4 separate regions of the Homo sapiens genome follow, and regions 2, 3 and 4 are each linked to region 1. Evidence: fine-mapped expression QTL. A gene starts in region 1. Each other region holds a variant in brackets. All regions are shown on one strand. Distances are between the middles of the regions. Region 1 holds the start of E2F3 (E2F transcription factor 3). Region 2 has its middle 25 kb from the start of CDKAL1. Region 3 overlaps E2F3 (E2F transcription factor 3). Region 4 overlaps E2F3 (E2F transcription factor 3).

Region 1 (5,797 bases):
TAGATAACCGGCCAGGCGTGGTGGCTCACGCCTGTAATCTCAGCTACTCAGGAGGCTGAGGCAGGAGAATGCTTGAACTCGGGAGGCGGAGGTTGCAGTGAGCCGAGATCGTGCCATTGCACTCCAGCCTGGGCGACAGAATGAGACTCCGTCTCAAAAAAAAAAAAAAAAAAAATGCAGATAACCAATGATTCAGCATACATTGCAATCATATAAAAAATGCTTCTGAATATGTATATGAGTAACATTTATATTCCTGTAATGAAAAACCTTTTGTGTGCACATAAACTCAAAAGGATATTATTATTCCTGGAATAATAATTTCATGTCAAGGAGAATAAAGTTTTGAAATAACTTGGAAGATGGTGAGGGTAATTTAGTATACTTTAAATACTTAAATACAATGAACTAGATATAATAAACCTGGCTTGAAAGATAGTCTTAGGGACCTGGCCCAACAAACACTGTTAAAATTTTTTAAAAATCAACTTGAAGCTCTCATAATTTCCCATTATCAAAACTACCCCCTGCAAATCTGTGAATCTAATCCAAGAAGTATGTCAATAGCTGGTTGTTTAAGGTTAGGTTTATGAAATAGTAACAGAACTGTGCAGGGGTCAAATATGCTTAAAATATGTCCAAACATGCTTAGGTCAAGTCAGTAAGAGTATCTGAAGCTAATAAAAGCATGGAATATTCTTGCGACTGAAAACCCAGCACACCGGATACTGCTATGTCTAAGCAGGTACTGTGCTCCGTTTCCCCCCTGCTGGCAGACCCTAGTCACTAAAAAACGATGAGCTTCTTTGACTAAGACTACATCACACATGCCCAGCAAGTATCTCTGGGGCTGGAAAGCAGTTAAGACCGAACCCGGGGAGAAACTGGGAACAGGAAAGAAATAAAAAACGCCTCATTATTCCCAAACCCATCCCATTTCCCAAAGTGCTGCCTATGTGCTGACTTTCTTAAAGACTCCCGCAAAATCTTGATTCTCCAAAAATTAAACCCATTTGGAGCTGAGACAAGGTGAGGTCCACGCCTGGTATAATCAGGCTACCATGGATCTAACTGAGTCTGGTTCGGTTCTAGCCCCGTGGAGGCCAAGCCTCACCACGAGGGTGAAGACCCGGAGGCATGGAGGAAGGGAATGAAGGAGAGAAAAGGAGAAAGGGGAGACCTCCGGGCCACACTTCTTTCTAGTACCAACAAAAAGAGAAGCCGCATACTGACCTAAATCATCTCTCAAAGGCGCTTTATAAATTACAGGGACAAAGGGAGGGGGTGGCGGGTGGCCTGGGAATCCTACAGACACCCTACCCTCTGACCCACCCCCCTCCCCCTCCAGCACAAGGGAAGGAAGACAGAAAACAGAGCTCAACTCGGCCATTGGCGAGAAGCCCCCTCCGGTTTTCTATCGCCCATCCATCCGCCCCCTAGAAAAAAAATCCACGTAAACACCATACCCACCCCCTGGGGCAGACACTCCCGCCCCGAGGTTCCTAGAACCGGAGGCCGGGGCATTTACTTAGTTAGATTTTTCTTGCTTACTCATTTCCCTCGAGCACCCAACCCCCCGTTCCCACTCCAAAACCCCGCTCAACCGCCTACCCTCACCGCTTCAGCCCCCAACAGAATCCGGTGCCCCCGCGGCGTCGGCGGCCCCCGAGCCGTCCCGGTCACTAACCTGCTGCTGTAAGGGCATTTCCGAAACCAGCCTGGCTCCGGGGGGAGGTGGGGGGCCGGCTGGAGAGGGGGCCCGGAGGGCCGAACAGACCGGCGGCGCAGGGCGAGGGCGGGCGCCGGTGGGGGGGTGGGGAGAGGAGAGGGAGGGTGGCGGTGCCGGGGGCGGGTGCGAGGGCGCCGGGACCGTCCCAGGCCAGGGAGCCGGCGAGCAGGAGGAAGTGGGTGCCCCCCTCTCCCCCTCCAGCGCCCCCTCCCGCCGCCGCCTCCTCCCCAGTCACAGGCGCGTCCTGCGCGCACGTGTGCGAAACGTCACCGGCGGGTCCCGGAGAGAGGGACAGACCCAGGCGGCGGGACGGGAACCCAGCTGCCCCCGCCCTCCGTCGCCGGGGGGCGGAGAGGGGGACAGGGCGGGGAAGGAAGGGGCAAGGGGAGAGGCGGGTCAAGGGCAGGCCCGGGGCCCGGCGAGGAAGGCCTGGGCGCTTGGGCCACGCGGGCGCCGCCGCTGCCACTGCCAGGATGCGCCCAGGCCAGAGCGCCAGCCCGCGAGCCCCTCACCCCAGACAGCCCACGCCCCAGTCCGCACCCGGCTTCCAGCCCCACCTCCCCCACGCCCGACTCCCCTCCACCTCCCCCAGCCCCTTTGTTGCCGGGAGTTACAGATCCTAAAATGTGTCAAGCGCAGCCCCGCCGATCCCCTGCGCTCCGAGCACGCCGCAGGGACCCCCGGCCGCCAACGAGCCTCCAAGGCCGACTGGGGGCTAGCACCCCAACAGTCCCCCGGTTTCAACCCCTCAGAGCCCCCCACACCCCAGTTCACTACTCCCTCCCCCACCCCCTTCTCCATCCGGGGCGTGACCCCTTCCTACGCCCGAGAAAGAGGAAGCTTCGAGTTGGAGGGGAAGGGAGAGTGGGGGTAGGGAAAAGTGCAGGAAAAGAAGGGGGGGCCGCGAAAAGTTTTGGAGTGTTTGATGTGGTTCGCGCCAAGGCAATCCCCGCCGCCCCGCGCGCCTGGCCGAGCCCCCCGACCCTCCTGGCGCCGGGAAGAGCACTCAGGTCTAACAATGAACCCTCGTTGGAGGGGCAGCCCCCGAGGCCCACGATGCTCGGCCCAGTGCTCTCCCCGAGCGGCCCGCAGCGCGCCCACGACCCCGCGCGGTGCGAGCCCACCTCCCGCCGGGGCTGGGGACGGTGGGGAGGGAGGGTATTACCGGAGGGCCGCCGCCGCCGCCGCTGCCGCCGCGTCCCAGCGCTGGTGGCTGCTGCAGCAGCCCGGCTCTGCTGGAGGGTCCGTGCGGCGTGGTGTAGAGGAGGCTGCCGGCGGTCTGCTCCGCGCCGGGGGCACTGGGGAGGAGGGGGCCGGCGGCTACGGCGCCGCTTTGGAGGGAGGAGGAACAGGAGGTGGTGGAAGTGTTCGTGGTGAGGATCTGGATGTACGCGCCCGGGGCGGCGGCAGCGGCGGCGGCGGCGGCGAAGCCGGGGCTGGCTAGCAGTGCCCTTTTGTCCATGGAGGCTGCAGCGGCGGCGGCGACGACAGCCGCCCCCTCCCCACCCCCGGCGGTCACCAGGTACTGCTCCAGAGCGGGCTGGATTCCCTTTCTCATCTCTCGCTCCTGCTCTTTTTAGTGTTATGGTATATTAATGTATTGTTTTCAATTTCTTTATTATTTGCAGTCGGAGTTTCCAAGTCTCTCCTCCTTCTCTCCTCCCCGCCCGGCGCTTCCGAGCCCCCTCTCTCTCTTTTCTTTTTATTTTTCCGCACCGCACAGGCCCCGGGGGCCAAAAATAATCGGGGCTCTGGAGAGAGGAGGGTCCCGGCCGCACGGATATCGGGCCCCAAGCGGGGATGGAGGCGTCGGGGGCGGCCGATGCAACGGATTGCGAGGCGGCGGCGGCAGCCCGGGTGCTGCGGCCGGCAGCTGAAAAATGGCTCCAGGAAGCTGCTGCTGACAATGAATGAAGGGATACGGTTTACGCGCCAAGGTCCTCCCGCGAAACTCGGATTTCCCGCCGGCTTTTCAAACCATATTTGCATATCCCCGCCCCTCAACCCGCCGAGGACCGTTCCCACAGCCCATTGGGCCGCTACCTCCTTACTTCAGTCCCAATCATGGAGCAGGGCCGCGACTTGCTGGTTTCCATTGGCTGCCGTGCATCATGGTTACCGGGGCGACAGGGACCCTATTTGCATAGGCCTCCTTGATTGGCTGGCAGAAGAGCAGTTTTTAGGGGGTGGGGCAAAGAATTTCCTTCTCTCCCACGGAAGACCACGCCTGGCCTAGGCTCCGCCCCTGTCCCCGCCCGCCCGCCGGGCCGGCGCTACTGACCTGGGCAGGGACTCCGCGCCCCGCAGACTCAGTGTAGATCTAGTCTAGAGCCCAAGTTTCGCTTTTGGAAATTGTCAAGGTGACTAAGGGAACACTCTTTCCTTTGACCAGTCAGTGCAATAAACGAACAGCGCAGGAGATTTTTCCAGATACGTGCCAAAGGCAAGTTGGACCATGCGGACGATGTCTGGCAGGTGCAAAAGGAGCCCTTTAAATCGTGGGCTTCTCCCTTCCTGAAATCCAACCAATGACGCGGCGAGAGCTGATCCCGAGGCCGGGGCTGATAGACAGAAGCATGTGGGCAGACAGAATCGTGGGGGCAGAAGGTTCAGCAGACGCGATTGCGGGCACCAGTTAACATTCCAGATCATTCCCGGTACCTTCATTATTAGCCTGGATAGGGGTAAAGTACAAATTAACTCTTTTGTCTTACAACGGATATTGGTTTGAATCCAGCAGACATTCCCTCTGGCCCAGAAACACCCAGGGCAGTTAATCAGGGCTAACCTAGAACTGATCTACGGGTTTCTAATCCGCCAAGCAGTAATCCGAAAAAGTACACGCTTCCCACGATGACGTCGTGCCCCCAACGAACGCAGGCACGCCCAGGCATCAGCACTTTATATCTTCAGTTTTGTAGGAAGTTCTCTGACTGGAAGCAAACACAACGACTCAAACCTATCCCAAAGTATTTTTAAAATAGTGTCTTTTTTTAAAAAGTAAACTAGAAATTGTCATCAGAAAAATATAAAATGATGTGTCAAACTGACTCCTGAATTTGTTCAAGTATTCATGGGTCTTAAAATTAAAGCTTGCTCCTGAGATTGAGCAGGAAAAGAGACCCCTGCAGGAATGTGGGGGAAGTTATGTATGTAGAGACTAGATCATAATTTATAGTTACGTGCAAAACAGCTGCAGAATTGGTGCTCATAGGTGATGAGGATTGCAACACCTTGAGCCCTTTCACAAGATTTTTATTACTATTATTAATTTCCCAAAACTCTTACTCAGAGTGCTATGAAACACCTGACAAGATGTGTCAGATCAGGCTAGGACTCCTTAATATTTTAGCCTTGTTACCTTTTCTGAAACAGATGAGTTAAAAGTTCCATTAAACCTTGCACCAGGCTCAGGAATATTTTAGTCTTGCATTCAGGCTAGTTGAGGATCCATAGCCCTAAACATTTGTCGACACTGGTAGAGGTGACACTATCTTTATTTTTTGAGACAGAGTCTTGCTGTTGTTGCCCAGGCTGGAGTGCCATGGCACGATCTCAGCTCACTGCAACCTCTGCCTCCTGGGTTCAAGCAATTCTTCTGCCTCAGCTTCCTGAGTAGCTGGGACTACAGGTACGTGCCACCACGCCCAGCTAATTTTTGTATTTTTAGTAGAGACAGGGTTTCATCATGTTGGCCAGGCTGGTCTTGAACTCCTGACCCTAGGAGATCCGCCTCCCTTGGCCTCCCAAAGTGCTGGGATTACAGGCATGAGCCACCGCGCCTGGCCAGAAGTGACACTATCTTTAGGGCAGATTAAGTGGTACTCAAAGGGCATGAGCTAGAAGTGTAATATACCAGCAGCTTCCCTGCTCTTGTTCCATCAATGTTGCTTTCCTCTATGGATATACCTGTGGAAGAAACTAGTACTGTCACTACTTGGATATTACCATCTGCAGAGCATCACTGGCAGCTTGCATTTGGTGGCAGTAGTGGGGGTTGTGAGGGAGGAGTGGTGCAACATACACAGTAATTATAGACCTGCGCCTTATGATTAGAGACCAGCCTGG
Region 2 (5,797 bases), 110 kb before region 1:
AGCCAGTGTCCAAGATGACCCCAATGGTCCCTACCTTTGTATTTATGGCATAGTTCTTTTTTTTTTTTTTTTTTGAGATGGAGTCTCGCTCTGTCACCCAGGCTGGAGTGCAGTGGCACGATCTTGGCTCACTGCAACCTCCGCCTCCTGGGTTGAAGTGATTCTTCTGCCTCAGCCTCCTGGGTAGCTGGGACTACAGGCACCCGCCACCATGCCCAGCTAATTCATTTTTATTTTTAGTAGAGATGGGATTTCACCGTGTTAGCCAGGATGTCTCCATCTCCTGACCTTGTGATCCACCCGCCTCGGCCTCCCAAAGTGTTGGGAGTACAGGCGTAAGCCACCGCTCCTGGTCTACCTTTGTATTTATATATTCCCATCCCACATTGAATATGGCAGACTAGTATCACCAACAGGATATTGACAAAATGACACTGTGTGATTTCTGAGGCTACATCACAGAAGACATTGTAGCATATGCCTTGTTGTAGCTCACTGCTCACTTACCTCCCAGGTCCCAGTGATTCTCTCTTGGATCATTTGCTCTGGGGAAGTCGATGGCCATGTCATGAGGACACTCACTTAAGTAGCCCTATGAAGAAGTCCACATGGGGCGGATCTGAGCCTCCTGCCAACAGCCAGTACAACTTGCCAACTATCAGAATGAGCCAGCTTGTAGTAAATCCTCCATCCCTAGACAAGCCTTCAAATAACTACCACCCTGGCTGCCACCCTGACTGCCACCTCATGAAATACCCAAACCAGAACCACCCCAACTAAGCTGCTCCTGAATTGCTGACTACAGAAACTGTATGAAAAAATAAATGTTTACTTCTGTTTTAAGACAATAAGTTTTGAGGTATGTAGTCATGCAGTAGTAGATTAAAGCAGACATTATAAGAATCCTAATTTGCTGTAATAACAATAACACTGTTCATTAAGGGTATTGTCTGTGAGTTTGGACAAGTGACTTAACCTTGCTATACTTCAGTTTTCTCATCTGTCAAAAGGGTCTAATAAGGCTTGGTCAGGTGGCTCATGCCTGTAATCCCAGCACTTTGGGAGGCCAAGGTGAGTGGATCGCTTGAGCCCAGCCTGAGCAACATAGCAAAACCCCATCTTTACTAAAAATACAAAAAACTGGCCTGGTGTGGTGGCATGTGCCTATAGTCCCAGCTACTCAGGAGGCTGAGGTGGGAGCATCACCTGAGCTTGGGAAGTCGAGGGTGCAGTGAGCTGTGATTGAGCCATTGCATTCCAGCCTGGGTGACAAAAGTAAGACTCTGTCTCAAAAAAAATCCATGTCTCAGAATGTCTATAACATTAAATTATATAATAGATATAGATATTTTAAAGAATAAAATAAAATCATAGATAGCATATAATAGAAAATAAATGTCATCCATTATTATTTGCTGTTCTTTTTTTTTTTTTTTTTTTTTTTCTGAGATGGAATCTCACTCTGTTGCCCAGGCTGGAGTGCAATGGTGTGATCTGAGCTCACTGCAACCTCCGCCTCCTGGGTTCAAGCAATTCTCCTGCCTCAGCCTCCTGAGTAGCTAGGATTACAGGCGTATGCCACAACATCCAGCTAATTCTTGTATTTTTAGTAGAGATGGGGTTTCACCATGTTGGCCAGGCTGGTCTCGAACTCCTGACCTCATGATCCGCCCACCTCGGCCTCCCAAAGTGCTGGGATTACAGGTGTGAGCCACCACGCCCAGCTGCTGTTCTTTTTTTAATTTTAAAAAATGTTTTTGAAACAAGGTCTCACTCTGTTGCCCAGGCTGGAATGCAGTGGCCTGACCACAGCTCACTGCAGCCTTGAAATCCTGGGCTCAAGGAATCCGCCTACCTCAGCCTCCTGAGTAGCCTCCTGGGGCTACAGGCACGCCTCATGGCATCCAGCTATTTTTTTCTTTTCTTTTTTTGAGACAGGTTCTCAGTATGTTGCCCAAGCTGGTCTCAAATTGCTGGCCGCAAGTTATCCTCCTAGCTCAGCCTCCCAAAGTGTGAGATTACAGGCATGAGTCACCACGCCCAGCCTGCTGTTATTCTTATTACTATTATTTTTTCTTTTTTAATGTTAATTTTAACCAAATCTGCTTCTCCTTCTGTTTTTCAAAATCCATTACTAACACAACCCACACAGTTAAAACAACAACAGTCAAACACATCAGAAACCTGGACATTATCCTTGACTGATTTTACTTTTCACTCTTCACATCCAATCAATCATTAAGTTCCAATGACTATATCTTCTAAAGACTTTCAGAGTATTTCCTTTATTCCTACTCCCACTGCCTTAGCTCAGGTCCCCATCAACTCCTATCTGGACTATTAAACAGATTCCTAAATGGTTCCCTGCCTCTAATCTTGTTTCCCCCAAATTGTTTTTCACACTGCAGCCAGTGATCTATCTACAATACAAATATAATAAAACCATTC[C/G]CCTGGTGAAAACATTTCCCTGGTCCTCTGACAACTGCAGAAGGCAGTTGCTCACACTGCTCACTCGCCTCCCAGGTTCCAGTGATTCTCCTGCTTCAGCTTCCTGGATAGCTGGGATTACAGGCATGTGCCACCACACCCGGCTAATTTTTGTATTTTTAGTAGAGACAGAGTTTCACCATGTTAGCCAGGCTGGTCGCAAACTCCTGACCTCAGGTGATCTGCCTGCCTCGACCTCCCAAAGTGCTAGGATTACAGGCATGAGCCACCATGCCCAGCCCGCTGTGGATTCTTACTTATGCTTCAAAATTCGACCCAAGCCTTCTTTTCTCCAGGAGAGAACTAACCAAATAACTAAATAAATTAATAAGATTTCTCAGATGGCTTAGTTTGGGTTAAGTCTCCTTTCTTTAATGTACAATATATATCTGAGGTCCAGGTAAAATATTCGGGACACCCTTATACCAAAAAATTACTCATTGTTTTTCTGAAATTCAAATTCAACTAGGCACCCTGTTTTTGTTTTCTGAATCTGGCAACACTGTCTCCTCACTTTCTATTATATATTGTATAGATTTTATCTCTTACATATATATCCCTCCCTTGGAAGGACTTGCAAGAAAGGGACTTAGTGGAAATCTCTTGCAGGAAGGAACCAGGTCTTTTTTAATGATTTATTTATTTATTTATTTATTTTTTAAATCTCTGATTCCCTAGTGGCTGGCAAATTATCTGACACACCGGATACATTAGTTAGAATCTTCTGGTTGCAAGTAGTAGAAACAAACTCAAGCCCAATTAAGCAATGAAGGATTTATGGTAATGAGAATTCCAGAGCCAGAGTGCAGCTGGCTTCAGGAAGCCCAGGAACCCATTGCTCTCTCTTCTCTCATCTGTTTCTCTCAATGCCTGAGCTCCCTTCTTCTCTAATTGCCAGGCGTTTCTCTGCTATTCAATTCACTTGGAAGATAGCTGAGCAGCCCTCCTGATGGCTACATCTCCTTCATTTGAGATAGACACTAATATCTCTTAACCCCAATTCCAATCTCTGGGGAGGGTACTGGGTTCAGTCAGTTGAGTCTAGGAAGGGAGGGTTGTGTAATAACAGGGCTCGCCTGTGACTGTGTAGAGTATTTTTTTGGTTTTTAATGTTTTTTGGGGGGACAAGATCTTACTCTGTCGCCTAGGCTGGAGTGCAGTGGTGTCCTCATAGCTCACTGTATCCTCAAACTCCTGGGCCCGAGGGCTCCTCCTGCCTCAGCCTCCCAAGTTGCTGGGATTACAGGTGCACACCACCATGCCAGGCTAATTAAAAAACAACTTTTTTTAGAGATGGGGTCTTGCTATATGTTGCCCAGGCTGGTCTCAAACTCCTGGCCTCAAGCAATCTTCCAGCCTTGGCCTCCCAAAGCACTGGGATTATAGGCATGAGCCACTGTGCCCTGGCCTCACCCTGTGGTTTGATAGTGGAGGAAGAACAGACACTGAGAAGGTTTCTACTGCATAGATGCTGTATTAGTCAGGGTTCTCCAGACAACAAAGCCCATAGTATACGTGTGTGTGTTTGTGTGTGTGTGTGTGGTGTGTGTGTGTGTGAGAGAGAGAGAGAGAGAGAGAGATTGAGAGATTGAGATTATAGAGGCTGGTAAATGCAAATATTTAGGTTGGGCTGGCAGACTGGAGACCCAGGGGAGAGTGGATATTGCAGTTCAAGTCCAAAGGCTGTCTGCTGGCAGAATCCGCTCCTGTTCCAAGGTCAGTCTTTTGTTCTACTTGCCTTCATCTGATCATGTGAGACCCACTCACATCAGGGAGGGAAGTCTGCTTTACTCAAAATCCGCTGATGTAAATGTTAATCTCAACGAAAAACACCCTCATTGAAACATCCAGATACTCAAACATTTGTGGAATTGAACTACTTTTGTTGCCTACTACATTTAAACAGTGTTGCTCTGTGAAGAACCTCAGATAAATTGTGATCTCAGAATCTCAGAACCAAGAATAGTTAGGCCTTCTTCTGAGCCTTGGTTTGTTTTATCCCATAAACTCTGAATCATGTAATATATCATATTTCTCTCTTTTGGTTCTAGAGAGGTTGGACTTTAATTAGTGTTTCTTTTCTAGCAAATGTGCAGTACCTTACAGATGCATTTTATACACTAACCTCATTCCTGTGTACATATTACCTTCAAAACAATTCTCATTTTTCATTTCTTAATTGCCTCACTAATTTGTTTTTAAGTTTATTTAACAGGACTTTATGGGAAGAGTGTGAGTTAATAAAGAAAGCGCTTGTCAAAATTCTTGATCTCCTTTTCCTTGAGCCAAGACCAATGTCTTTCATTTTTAATGATTCTAAAATGAGCAGTTTGTAGTCTTTCAAAAGTCCTCATATGACACGATTCCCACAGCCCTTCCATTTCAGTAGTCCTGTTTACGGGTTTAAAAGAAGCCCAGCATGTATCATCAATCTCTTACCATTCGAAGCATAATGAAAGTCAAGTGCTCAATGCTGCAAAACATTGAGCTGTTAAACACCTCCAGACATTTTTTTTTACCAGCTTAAATTGCTCTTCTTTTACCATCTTAAAACATATGCTCTTTTCCTCAGATCTTCAAAAATGTTGACTTCTAAAAGTGGGCCTTTGTTCTGGGGTGGTAGAGCTGAAAATCGAGGCAAAAATAAGAGAAGAGCTGAGAGCAAAAACAGAGCCAAGAGAAGAGGGTCTTTGAGATGACATCTGAATCTGTTCAATAAACATGGCTGGCATAGCTGGGCGCGGTGGCTCAGGCCTGTAATCCTAGCACTTTGGGAGGCCGAGGTGGGTGGATCACCTGAGGTCAGGAGTTCGAGACCAGCATGGCCAACATGGCGAAACCCCATCTCTACTAAAAATACAAAAATTAGCTAGGCGTGGTGGCACATGCCTGTAATCCTAGCTACTTGGGAGGCTGAGGCAGGAGAATCAGTTGAGCCCGGGAGTGGAGTTTGCAGTGAGCCAAGATCATACCACTGTACTCCAGCCTGGGTGACAAGAGCAAAACTCTGTCTTAACATAATAATAATAATAATAATAATAATAATAATAATAATAGCTCTATATAATTAAGTGTAGGAGATTACATTGCAACCACTATATTTTTGGTAAATGCAGCAATAGGATATTCACTATGAGTTGAGGTTTTCCATGTTGTCCATTTGGTGTCCCTGAAGCAGTCCTTGAGTGCAGCAGCTTTACAAAGTACATGCCAAAAAGGAGGAGGCCAGAGCATCATCTCCATTTTTACTTCTGTTATCATGTTACTCCCTTGCCCTGATTTAAAAAAAAAAAGTAGTCCTGGCCAGGTG
Region 3 (5,797 bases), 73 kb before region 1:
AGTTGCAATTTCAAAACAACTCCCCGTGATGTGAAAACGTAAGTAATAACTTATCAGCGGAAGCTAGATATTCAGCCCCTCTATGGAAAGTTACCAGCTAACCCTGCACCGTCTACTACGATAGCCACTGGTTACTAGCTCATCCAAACTGACATGTGCTATAATTGTAAAATACACACTGAATTTCGAAGACTTAGTACAAAACAGGGTAAAATATCTCAACAATTTTAGTAGTGATCACATGTTAAATGAAATAAATAAAATACAACTGACCCTTGAACAACATGGGTTTGGACTGTCCGTTTCCACTGATTTTATTTTTTTAGAGACAGGGTCTTGCTCTGCCGCCCAGGCTGGAGTGCAGTGGTGTGATCTCAGCTCACTGCAACCTTGTCCTCCCAGGCTCAAGGAATCCTCCCATCTCAGCCTCCTGAGTAGATGGGACCACAGGTGCACACCATGATGTCTGGCTAATTTAAATTTTTTTTTTTTTGGGTAGAGATGGGGCCTCTGTATGTTGCCCAGGCTGGTGTTGAACTCTTGGGCTCAAGTGATCCTCCTGCCTCATCCTCCCAAAGTGCTGGGATTACAGCCGTGAGCCACTGCACCCGGCCATGAGTGTGTCCACCTATATGTGGGTTTTCTTCTTCCTCTGTCATCCCTGAGACAGTAAGACCAACCCCTCCTCTTTTCTTTCACCACACCTTCCTCAATGTGAAGATAACGAGGATGAATTTTATGATGATCCACTTCCAGTAATGAATAGTAAATCTATTTTCTCTTCCTTATGATTTTTTTTTCATCCAGCTGCTTTATATGCCCATATGCCTTCTACACTTTGAACCCTGGACCAAGTTCAGCTGCTAGGAAACGCAAATTCCAGAGCATACCTAAGATGCATTGGATCAGAAACTCTGGGAATGGGGCTGAGCAATCTAACAGGCCTTCCAGGTGATTCTGATACACCTTAAAGTTGGAGAAACCTGGCTTTAGATCATAAGGGAAAAGAGTAAGACACTCAGGCAAAGCCCAGCTCTGCCCAGCACGGCCTATTTCACACACCCTCACCTCTAGTCCTGCTTGGCTGATGAGGGAAATCTATCCTGTGGATTCCACTTTCATTCATTCCAAACTTTCTTTTATTGATAACATTTCCTCTCTAACTTCATTGTAAGAATACAGTATATAATACATATACCATATGAAATGTGTTAATGACTGTTTATGTTATTGGTAAGGCTTCTAGTCAACAGTAGGCTATTAGGGCTGGGTGCATGGATCACACCTGTAATCCCAGCTACTCAGGAGGATGACTTGAGGCCAAGAGTTCAAGACCAGCCTGATCAACGTAGCAAGACCCCCCATCACTAAAATAATAATGAAAACCCCAAACAACAGGCTATTAGTTAAGTTTAGGGGAGTCAAAAGATCTATCTAAATTTTTGACTGTGTCAGGGCACCTCTAACCCCAATGTTGTTAATGGGTCAGATGTAGCATTAAAATTATTTCATCTGTTTCTTTATATATATATTTTACGATGTGGCTTGCCTCAGTGGCACACCTTATCTTTCTACTGCAGTGCTAAGTTAAACATCATTCTAATGGCTCCGGAAGGACAATCTGCTTGCTGGACTTCATCTTCCCCTCCCAGCCATTCTGTCAAGTCCTTGTGTGGGCCTGCTGTGGTTGGTCCAGCAAACATTCACTCTTTATCAGGCAGAAGCTCCCTGTTTGTTCCTTGGGGAGCCATCCCTTTCCTGGTCTAAGCGCATCTGTGCACACAGGTGATCCAGGCCTGGCTAATCATTGTGGCCCATCCTGCCCTCCCCGCCCCCACCGCGAACAGGTTGAATGGCTTATGACCAAGGCTGGAGGAGCAAAGGCTAACCCCAGGAATGTTTCTGGAACTATCTGGCAAGAAGCAGGTATGTCTTTCCAGTAAGGTTGGTAAGTGAGGAGCCTAAAGCTGCCTGAGAATGGGGCCTTCCCAGGGGAAAGCAGAGTGGAGAGAAGGAGAGAGAGGGGTCTGAGACCACCACTCAAAACTCTGGCTCTGGTCATGCCCTGGGGGCAACTGTTGGTCTTTCCCAGACTTTCCAGTTACATTAGCCAATAAACTCTCCTTTTTGCTTAAAGCATTTTTTTTTTTTGAGACCCGGAGTCTCGCTCTGTCACCCAGGCTGGAGTGCAGTGGTGCAATTTCAACTTATTGCAAGCTCCGCCTCCCGGGTTCATGCCATTCTCCTGCCTCAGCCTCTCGAGTAGCTGGGACTACAGGCGTCCGCCACCACGCCCGGCTAATTTTTTGTAGTTTTAGTAGAGACGGGGTTTCACCATGTTAGCCAGGATCTTCTTGATCTCCTGACCTCGTGATCCGCCTTCCTCGGCCTCCTCAAGTGCTGGGATTACAGGCGTGAGCCACCGTGCCCAGCTGCTTCAAGTGTTTTGAGTCGGGAACCTAGAATTGTGCTGTTGCCAGTGACAGCTTATGGAACTGGCTGAGTCAAGATGGCTATGGTGTGACAGGGAGTTGGCAGGCCTTGTTAGAGAGTGGCAGAGTGTGTTGGTCACTTCTTGTGACCGCCAGGAAGATACTACAGATAGAGAGAAACTTCATCTGAGGCTGGCCCGCCTCAAAGAAAACAGCTTTGCTATGGAGGCCTTCTCTACAGAAAGCAATCTAAGGAGACATAGAGCTGTATTCTCTGCCCAAATTAAAGTCAACAAATGGGCTGGGCACAATGGCTCAC[G/A]CCTGTAATCCCAGCACTTTGAGAGGCCGAGGTAGGCAGATCACCTGAGGTCAGGAGTTTGAGACCAGCCTGGTGAAACCCTAACTCTACTAAAAATACAAAAAGTAGCCCAGCATGGTAGCATGCACCTGTAGTTCCAGTTACTTGGGAGGCTGGGGCATGAGAATTGCTTGAACCTGGGAGGTGGAGGTTGGTGCCTCCGCAATCCAGCCTGGATGACAGAGAAAGACTCTTGTCTCAAAAAATGAAAATAAAGTGAACAGAAAGAAGGCAAACTTGGAAAAGAGTCTGGGACCCAGAACTCCTAGGGACCTAGGGCCGTGCCTCAGCAGTAAAGAACCACCCACTGGTCAGCAGGCTGGGGGCATACTAGTTTTATCTCTCCCTCCCAGGCTGCTGTTTCAGACTGCCATGAGGCAAAGGCCTATGGAACCATTAAACTGTAGGTTAGGGAAATTTCCATGTCTGCTGCTAAGTGACTGAGACTTAACTTCGAAAGACCGGGACTAGTCTTCATGTGTAACTCTCGTTACTAAGCACCAAACCATAAATTGACCAAATTTGAATGCTAGATGGACAAGCTACTAAAATTGCAAGGCACTTTTATTGCGAAAGAATCACTAAGTCTAGAAAGTGAAGGTCCATGATGTTGAACCTCTAAGGAAATCAATCACTAGGTCCAAAAGCCACGCCAGAAATAAGTGAGGTGTGAAGAAGGGGCAGCCCCAGAATTCCTCCCAGGAGGTGGAACTTGGGGTGGACTTATAGGCTCTACAAACTGCTGTCCCTGTGGAGGACATGACAAGAAGCAGGAGGTGAGCACTTTATGTCATTTCCCCTTTTCAGAAGGGAGGTTCCCGTTGGGTTATCCTGTTATTTTTCCTCCCCTGTTGAGTGAACAGGGAGGGCGGAACTGGATTTGTGGGGACCACATATTACCTGTTTGGTCTCAGATCTGAACATGGGTGCAATAATTAGAATCTCTTGAAAAAGGGCTAAGAATTTTGATATTTGATGGAGCAGCATTATTTTAATGCTTAACTTAGCAAATTCAAGCACACATGCCTGGTAAAACAAAAAACTATATGACAGGATTTAAATAGTGCGGGTGAGCTCTGTCTACACCACCCTGCCCTGGGCTGAGCACCAGGGTAGATGGAAATCTCTTCTCTTGGTCATCTCAATTTTTGTTAGTTCACAGCGTGAGCATCGTACTGATTGGAGAGGTATTCATTGTTTATGCACAGATCTTTACATTACATGGCCCCTACCAGTAAAACAGCCAACTTATCCAGTAATCAACAGAAGGATGGGCCATTTGGTTCCAAGCAGTGGTAAAGCCTGGCTCTGTGAGATTCTGTGTGGAACTCCATGTGGCACCTTCCGGCAGTACTTTCAAGGGTAACTTGTACTATAAACAAGGTATGTGCTAACGTTAAAACCTCAGCCCCATGGACGTTAACATGCCTCTGCAAAGAAACAGTTGTACTGGTAAGCAGTTCTGAAAATCTATGTAGGAAAATGTATGTAGTTAGAGCTGGGTGCAATGGTAATGCGCCTGTAGTCCCAGGTACTTGGGAGACTGAGGCAAGAGGATCACTTGGGCCCAGGAGTTTGAGACCAACCTGGGCAGCACAGCAAGTCTCCCATCTCTCTCTCTCAAAACGAAAAAAAACCACAAAACCCCAAAAGAATTACCACTGGAGCCAGTGGGGAACATCTATAGTCTGCCTGCCTGATATTTGTTGCCCCTATTTTTTTTCCACTGGGGAAGGAGCTCTACTGATGTTCTTAGTTTCTATTAGTCTCCAAGCATGAAAAGACAAGACTTGAGACTGATCAACATTAGGACGACTCTTCCCATCAAAGTTGCAGAGGTGAGTACTGAATCCTGGCCTCAATCCCAAGGCTCAAGTGTCTGGGGTAAAGATGAGACCATGACCAATGCAGGAAGGGTCAGTCAATCCTGGGATTTTTCTTGGGAACCACTGGGAAAGTACTGGGTTCTTTTCACTGGGCATTATTAGGCCAGTAGGGTGCGAGCCTGGAGCTACTTGGGAAGTGAGCCAACACAGAAGAGCTGGGGAAAGGCTGAGTCCCAATCCCTTCAAGGGAGGTGCTAGATACAGCCATACCCAAAGGCACACATGCCACAGACTTTCATTTGTGTGAGCCCACAAATATCCCTTTTTGGTATAAGGCAGCTGAATTAGATTATTATTAATACCACTGATAGATACAGACCTTTAGTATTAATTATTACACAACAAATATTTGAGTGCTTATAATATGCTACGCACCATGTTAACTGTTTTCCACTCAATTTTGTTATCTTATTTTCACAACACCCTTAATAAGGTGGCTATTATTAATTCTTATTTTATAGAAGAAAAGGGAGGTCTAGTGTGATTAACTGACTTTTCCAAGATTCTATAGCCAGTAAGCACACCTACAAGTCCATGCTTATAACTACTTCATGAAAAGATTGTGAAAAGTCCCATGTAAAAATATTTGAATAGCTAGATTAAGTTGATATTGCCTTAATGACACACTTTATTTTATTCCTGATTTAAAAACTCTTCTTTACATATAATAAATGTATATGGTAATTTAAGCAGCATAAATGAGTATAAATGGAAAGCAAACTTTCTCCCTACTCCTGATCCCAGTTCCCTTCCTCAAAGGCAAGCACTATGAAGTTACTTGGATATCCTTTCAGATAGCTATATACATACTTGTATTTACCTAGACTATCTACCATCCCATCTTTAAAAAGTTTTTCCCATAAATCGTAGCAAAACACACACTTTTCTATTAATAACATATGTCCGAGTTAGACCTTATCAGAACACATGGAATGATCTCATTTCTCATAGCTGCATAATATTGTATTAATTAATATGCCACGATTTATTTACTTAAGCAGACATATACTAATGGACATTCAATACTCCTCTCCTATAATCATTTTTCCAATGAATAATCATGCTGGCATTGTGGGGTAGGTATTATTACACCCAGCTTGCACTGAGACAGAAGTTAAGGA
Region 4 (5,797 bases), 22 kb before region 1:
ATTTGACAAATGAGAAACTGGAGCCCTGAGGTGAAAAGAATTGATCCCACCCAACCTGCCAGGTCCCTGGTGCCTGACTACACTGCAAACCCCAATGTAACCCCTGCCCTGGCCGACCCTTCTTCCCTAAGCAGATTTTGCAGGAGTAGTTTCAGGACCATATTATTGTTCTGAACTTCTAAGAGGAAAGGGCCAAATACAAAGTGTTTGGTTAACTCAGTCAATGGAGCATAAATGAGATGTTTAAATCTTTGAGTTACAAAGCCTCATTAGGGTAAGAAGGCGCTGTAGGAGTGGACATAGGGAGGGTTTGTGATTCCCATTATATGATAAGAAATGCTATTAGGCTGGAATCAGTTCGATATGCCCAGGGAAGGCAGGCAGGAGTGGTAGTGAACATTTGTCTTCTTATTATATATGCAAAAACCCCAGCTAACATTGTACCTTATGCAGAACTTTTCATTCTCAGTCACTTTTACACATATATTACCCCATTTTCTTCCCCCAGCATCACAGTGGAGAAGGTATGGATAGGTGGTTTGGGGTGCCAATAAACCATAGACTATTTGAAGAAAAAAAATGTCTCACCCATAGTTTCATGGAGCCACATTTAGATTCTAGGTCTAATTTCAACAGATATCAGCACAGTGGAGCTACAGTTACAGTGGACAGATCATTTGTCAAGAATGGAAAAAGCCAGGATGCCAGGGCAGTTGTATTGGGGGGGATGGGAAGGAAGAAGTGAAAGTCTATTTTAAAAGAAATGTAGAGAAAAACTGCTAACAGAGCAGGCAGAGTTCAAGTTTAAGCCCTGGGCATGAGGGAAAGCCCAGTCAGCTGAGGCCATGCCAACACTTCAGGGTTACAAGCACCACTGGTCACCAACAGCACAGCCCTGGAAGGCCCATGTGTGGCCACGATCCCACAATGACACTAGGTGGAGATCAGGCAGATACCACCAACAGAGAGGCTGGGAATGGAATAAGATATTTCAGCCATAACTGCAGACGTGAAAAACAAGATTGGGGCGGCAAGTGCTAAATAAATCACAAAATAATTATTCATTTACCTCTCAGTCTGGAAGTAAACCTATGCTTTCACAAAATTAAGAGTGCAATCATGCAGTAAAAACAAGAAATCTTTGATTAGGTGCCTTCTATTGTGTAATACAAAATTGGATAATGTAGACCAAAAAACAATAAATGAATGACAAAGCAAAACTATATATTTTTATAAAAGACACTAAGATTTAATTCCCCTATACTTACACCAGTAATTGTTGAAGAAAAGGTAAATTAAAGGACTCAGGATATGAAAACAAACTTGATCCCCACCACCACTGCCAATTAATTACATGCACATGAGAAATTCACTAAGCAGCTAATCATTTATATTCTGGTGTAGTATTTCCGCACAACTATTGTATTAGATATTTAAATTTGCAATTTCAAATGGACTCATTGTCACAGGCCTCTTAGTCCATTTTACACACAAAATCAATACACTATTCCTAATAAATGAGATTACTTTTCCAAAACTCCCAGTGGGAGCTCAACAGGACTTCTGTTTGGGAGGCTGCTTCAAACTTCTCCAAAGAAAATTACTTTTCTGATGTTCACCTCTAAGAACCAACAGAAGGCACCTGAGAGAATTCAAATGAAGAAGCAACCACCTCGGGGGAAGGGAGGGCTCAAACTGTTAGGTAATTTAGACACATGAATGTCCCAGTTTAAATGCCACTCTATAGCAAAGCATTTCTGGATCCACCTGAGACCTCTGTTCCTCCACTAGAGAGCTAAGACACGTTGTTGCATTTTCTTCTAAAAGGTAGAAGGGGCCGGGCGCAGTGGCTCACGCCTGTAATCCCAGCACTTTGGGAGGCCGAGGCGGGGCGGGCGGGCAGATCACCTAGGGTCAGGAGTTCAAGACCAGCCTGGCCGACATGGTGAAACCCCGTCTCTACTAAAAATACAAAAATTAGCCAGGCATTGTGGCGTACGCCTGTAGTCCTGGCTACTCAGGCGGCTGAGGCAGAAGAATCGGTTGAACCCAGGAGGCAGAGTTTGCAGTGAGCCAAGATCGTGCCACTGCACTCCAGCCTGGGTGACAGAGCGAGACTTTGTCTCAAAAAAAAAAAAAAAAAAAGTAGAAGGTTCCTGGGGTTGTGCGCACAGCTCCTCCCAGCCTACTGCCCCATTCTGAATGTCCAGGGCTGTGTATTCCTCACCTTTGTATTCCAAACCACAGACCCAACTCTAGAAAAGAGCCGAGGAAGGGTTACAGTGTCTGGCATTAAAAAAAAGCACTGGGTAAATAATTTCTCTCCCCACTCACTTAAACTTTAGCCTGTGGTCCCAACTTGACTTGTATCCTAAATCTGAACAAATACCCTTGGCAAAGCCAAATTTTTCAACTCTTGCTGCCCCAATGGATAAATCCTTTAGAGAGATCTTGCTAGGTCTTCCCTTCATGCAATAAACACTCTACTCTGTAAAAGCCACTGACCGCCCTGCAGGACATGGAGAAACACCTGATAACCCGCCCTAGACAATGGCCTGCCCTCGTCATGTGAGAAAACCCCACGTGTCTGGGTTGCATAATGGTTAAGAGAGGTT[T/C]CGAAATTTCCTGGACTTGGTCTGGAACCCTGGTTCTGCCAATGTCCAGAAATGCAGCCTTGGACAAACTGCTTCATCACTGAGCCTCACTTTCCTCATCTACAGATGAGGATATTGGCACCAACTCTCAAGGTTTGTTGTATCAGATGAAAGAAAAAATGTAAACAGCTTACTGCTATTCCCAGTGCAGTAGACTATCTAATAAGTGCAGAGAGTTTTTTTTCTTATAACCCTAAACTCACAGTGGATGGGGGAGAAGAAGCTCAATTTGTAAAAATGCAAGTAAGCATGAACATAAAAACTGTAATTTTAATGAAAAAAAAAAGTATGTAACAGGAAGCAGATTTTCCTTATCTATAGCAAATCATATCACAAAGCTACTGTATTCAAAACAGTGTGCTGCTTCTTTACAAAGGGATAAAGGTATCAATGGAGCAGAGTAGAAAGTTCAGAGACAGAACAACACAGACACACATGCACACAGCACATACATGCATGTATGCATGTACACACACACACACACACACACACACATACACACACTCTCTCTGTGTCTCTCTGAGAAAAGGGCATTTCAAGTGCATGCGTGGGGAAAGCGGAACCATCCAATAAATGGCACTAGTTTAACTGGCTATTCGTTTAGGAAAAATAAAGTCACACCTTTAAAACACACACACACACACACACACACACACACACACACACACCCTTCCACTGAGGTTAAAGATCAAAATAATAAAATTATGAAGCCAGGAGAAAAAATATATAGAATATTGTTATGGTTTGCAGATTAGGAAAGGCCTTCCCAAAGCAAGCCACCAAACTCAAACTGTAAAAGCTGTAATTTCGGCTGTGTGCAGTGGCTCACACCTGTAATCCCAGCACTTTGGGAGGCCGAGGTGGGTGGATCACCTGAGGTCAGGAGTTCGAGACCAGCCTGACCAACATGGTGAAACCCCATCTCTACTAACAATACAAAAAATTAGCCGGGCATGGTGGCAGGTACCTGTAATCCCAGCTACTCGGGAGGCTGAGGCAGGAGAATCGGTTGAACTCGGGAGGCAGAGGTTGCAGTGAGCCAAGATCAGGCCATTGCACTCCAGCCTGGGCAACAAGAGCGAAACTCTGTCTCAAAAAAAGCACTGTAATGGCCGGGTGTGGTGGCTCACACCTGTAATCCCAGCACTTTGGGAGGCCGAGGCAGGCAGATCACGACGTGAGGAGTTCGAGACCAGCCTGGCCAACATGGCAAAACCCTGTCTCTACTAAAAATACAAAAATTAGCTGGGTGTGGTGGTGGGCGCCTGTAATCCCAGTTACTTGGGAGGCTGAGGCAGGAGAATCGGTTGAACCCAGGAGGCAGAGGTTGCAGTGAGCCGAGATCGTGCCATTGCACTCCAACCTGGGCGACAAGAGCAAGACTTGGTCTCAAAAAAAAAGCACTGTAATGTCACATGTAGTCATCTGCCAAACAATGATGCTTTCAGTCGACAGCAGACTGTATATATTCCAGTGGTCCCATAAGATTATAAGACTGTATTTTTACTATACTGTTGCTATGTTTGGATACATACCACTGTGTTTAAGTTGCCTACAGTATTCAGCCCAGTAACATACAGTACAGGTTTGTAGCCTAGGAGCAAGAGGCTAGACCATAGAACCTTGGGGTATAGTAGGCTATACCATGAGGTTTGTGTAAGTACTCTCTATGATGTCTGCAAAATGATGAAATTTCCTAATGACACATTTCTCAGACTATATCCCCATCGTTAAGTGACACATGACATTATAAAAACTAAATAAACATATGTAGAAAGAAATACATCATAGAAAAATCAAAAGAAACATAATAGGCTTGGGCAAAACAATACAGGGATACCACATTTCATTGTGCTCCACGGATACTGCAGTGTTTTACAAACTGAAGGTTTGTGACAACCCTGCATCAAGCTAGTCTATCAGCACCATTTTTCCAACAGTGCTTACTACATATCTCTGTCAAATTTTGGTAATTCTCGTAATATTTCAAACTTTTTCATTACTATTATGTCTGTTGTGGTGATCCGTGATCAGTGATCTTTGATGTCACTATTGCAATTACTAATGTCACTAAATAATGTTTAGTAACAATATATAATGGCAAACTTAATTGATAGCCATTGTGCGTGTTCTGAATGCTCCACCTTCCAGCTGTACCCTGTCTCTTACCCTCTTCTCGGGCCTCCCTATTCCTTAAGAAACAAGAATACTGAAATTAGGCTAATTAGTAATCCCACAATGGTCTCTTAAGTGTTCAGGTGAAAGGAAGAATCACACATCCCTCCCTCTAAATCAAAAGCTAGAAATTATTAAGCTTGGTGAGGAAATGTACGTCAAAACCTGAAATAGGCAAAAAACTAGGCCACTTGTGCCAAATAGTTAGCCAGGTTGTGAATGTGAAGGGAAAGGTCTTGAAGGACATTAAACATGGTACTCCATGAACACACAAATGACACGAGAACAAAACAGCCTTATTACTGATATGGAGAAAGTTTGAGTGGTCTGGATAGAAGATCAAACCAGCCACAACATTCCCTTAAGCCAAAGCCTAATCCAGAGCAAGGCCCTAAATCTCATCAGCTCTTTTGACGGCTGACAGGTGAGGAAGCTGCAGAGGTTGGAAGGTAGCAGAAGTTGGTTCACGACCTTTAAGGAAAGAAGCCTTCTCCATATCATAAAAGTGCAACGCGAAGCAGCAAGTGCTGACATAGAAACAGCAGCAAGTTATTCAGAAGATCTAGCTAAGATCACTCATGAAAGTGGCTACCCTAAACAACAGATCTTCAATGTAGATGAAACAGCTTTCTATTGGAAGATGATACCACTTAGTACTTGCATAGCTAGAGAGGAGAAGTCAATATCTGGCTTCAAAGCATCAAAAGACAGGCTGACTCTTTGGTTAGGGGCTAATGCAATTGGTGACATTAAGTTGAAGCCAATGATCGTTTACCATTTCAAAAACCCTAGGGCCCTTAAGAACTATGCTAGATCGCCGAGCGCGGTGGCACATGCCTGTAGTCCCAGCTACTCAGGAGGCTGAGGTGGGAGGATAGCTTGAGCCCAGGAGTTCTGGGCTGTAGTGCGCTATGCCGATCGGGTGTCCGCACTAAGTTCGGCATCAATATGGCGACCTCCTGGGAGTG

The links. PIP is the estimated chance that this variant, and not a neighbour inherited with it, causes the effect. A credible set is the group of variants that fine-mapping cannot tell apart.
Region 2: its variant is the best candidate, but not a certain one, in a credible set for the expression of E2F3 in whole blood (INTERVAL, PIP 0.88).
Region 3: its variant is the best candidate, but not a certain one, in a credible set for the expression of E2F3 in whole blood (INTERVAL, PIP 0.88).
Region 4: its variant is the best candidate, but not a certain one, in a credible set for the expression of E2F3 in whole blood (TOPMed, PIP 0.90).

The regions. Positions count from the first base shown.
Region 1 is chr6:20,399,723-20,405,519 of GRCh38, reverse strand. It overlaps E2F3 (E2F transcription factor 3), which reads right to left and starts at 3,641. Exons shown (of 7, transcript NM_001949.5): 1 at 2,895-3,641. The coding sequence starts at 3,287. LOC124901482 reads left to right here and starts at 2,748. Exons shown (of 3, transcript XM_047419652.1): 1 at 2,748-3,095; 2 at 3,140-3,251; 3 at 3,358-4,779. The coding sequence starts at 2,748. The coding sequence ends at 3,965. RefSeq lists silencers at 1,687-2,306, 2,507-2,976, 3,827-4,066 and an enhancer at 3,204-3,728.
Region 2 is chr6:20,506,882-20,512,678 of GRCh38, reverse strand. No RefSeq gene overlaps it. Among named protein-coding and RNA genes, the nearest start is that of CDKAL1, 25 kb to the left of the region's middle. The variant C/G (reference allele first, on the strand shown) is at 2,449.
Region 3 is chr6:20,472,727-20,478,523 of GRCh38, reverse strand. The region is part of intron 1 of E2F3 (E2F transcription factor 3); the gene reads right to left. Among named protein-coding and RNA genes, the nearest start is that of E2F3-IT1, 38 kb to the right of the region's middle. The variant G/A (reference allele first, on the strand shown) is at 2,752.
Region 4 is chr6:20,421,736-20,427,532 of GRCh38, reverse strand. The region is part of intron 1 of E2F3 (E2F transcription factor 3); the gene reads right to left. It also overlaps the pseudogene RN7SL128P. Among named protein-coding and RNA genes, the nearest start is that of E2F3-IT1, 13 kb to the left of the region's middle. The variant T/C (reference allele first, on the strand shown) is at 2,616.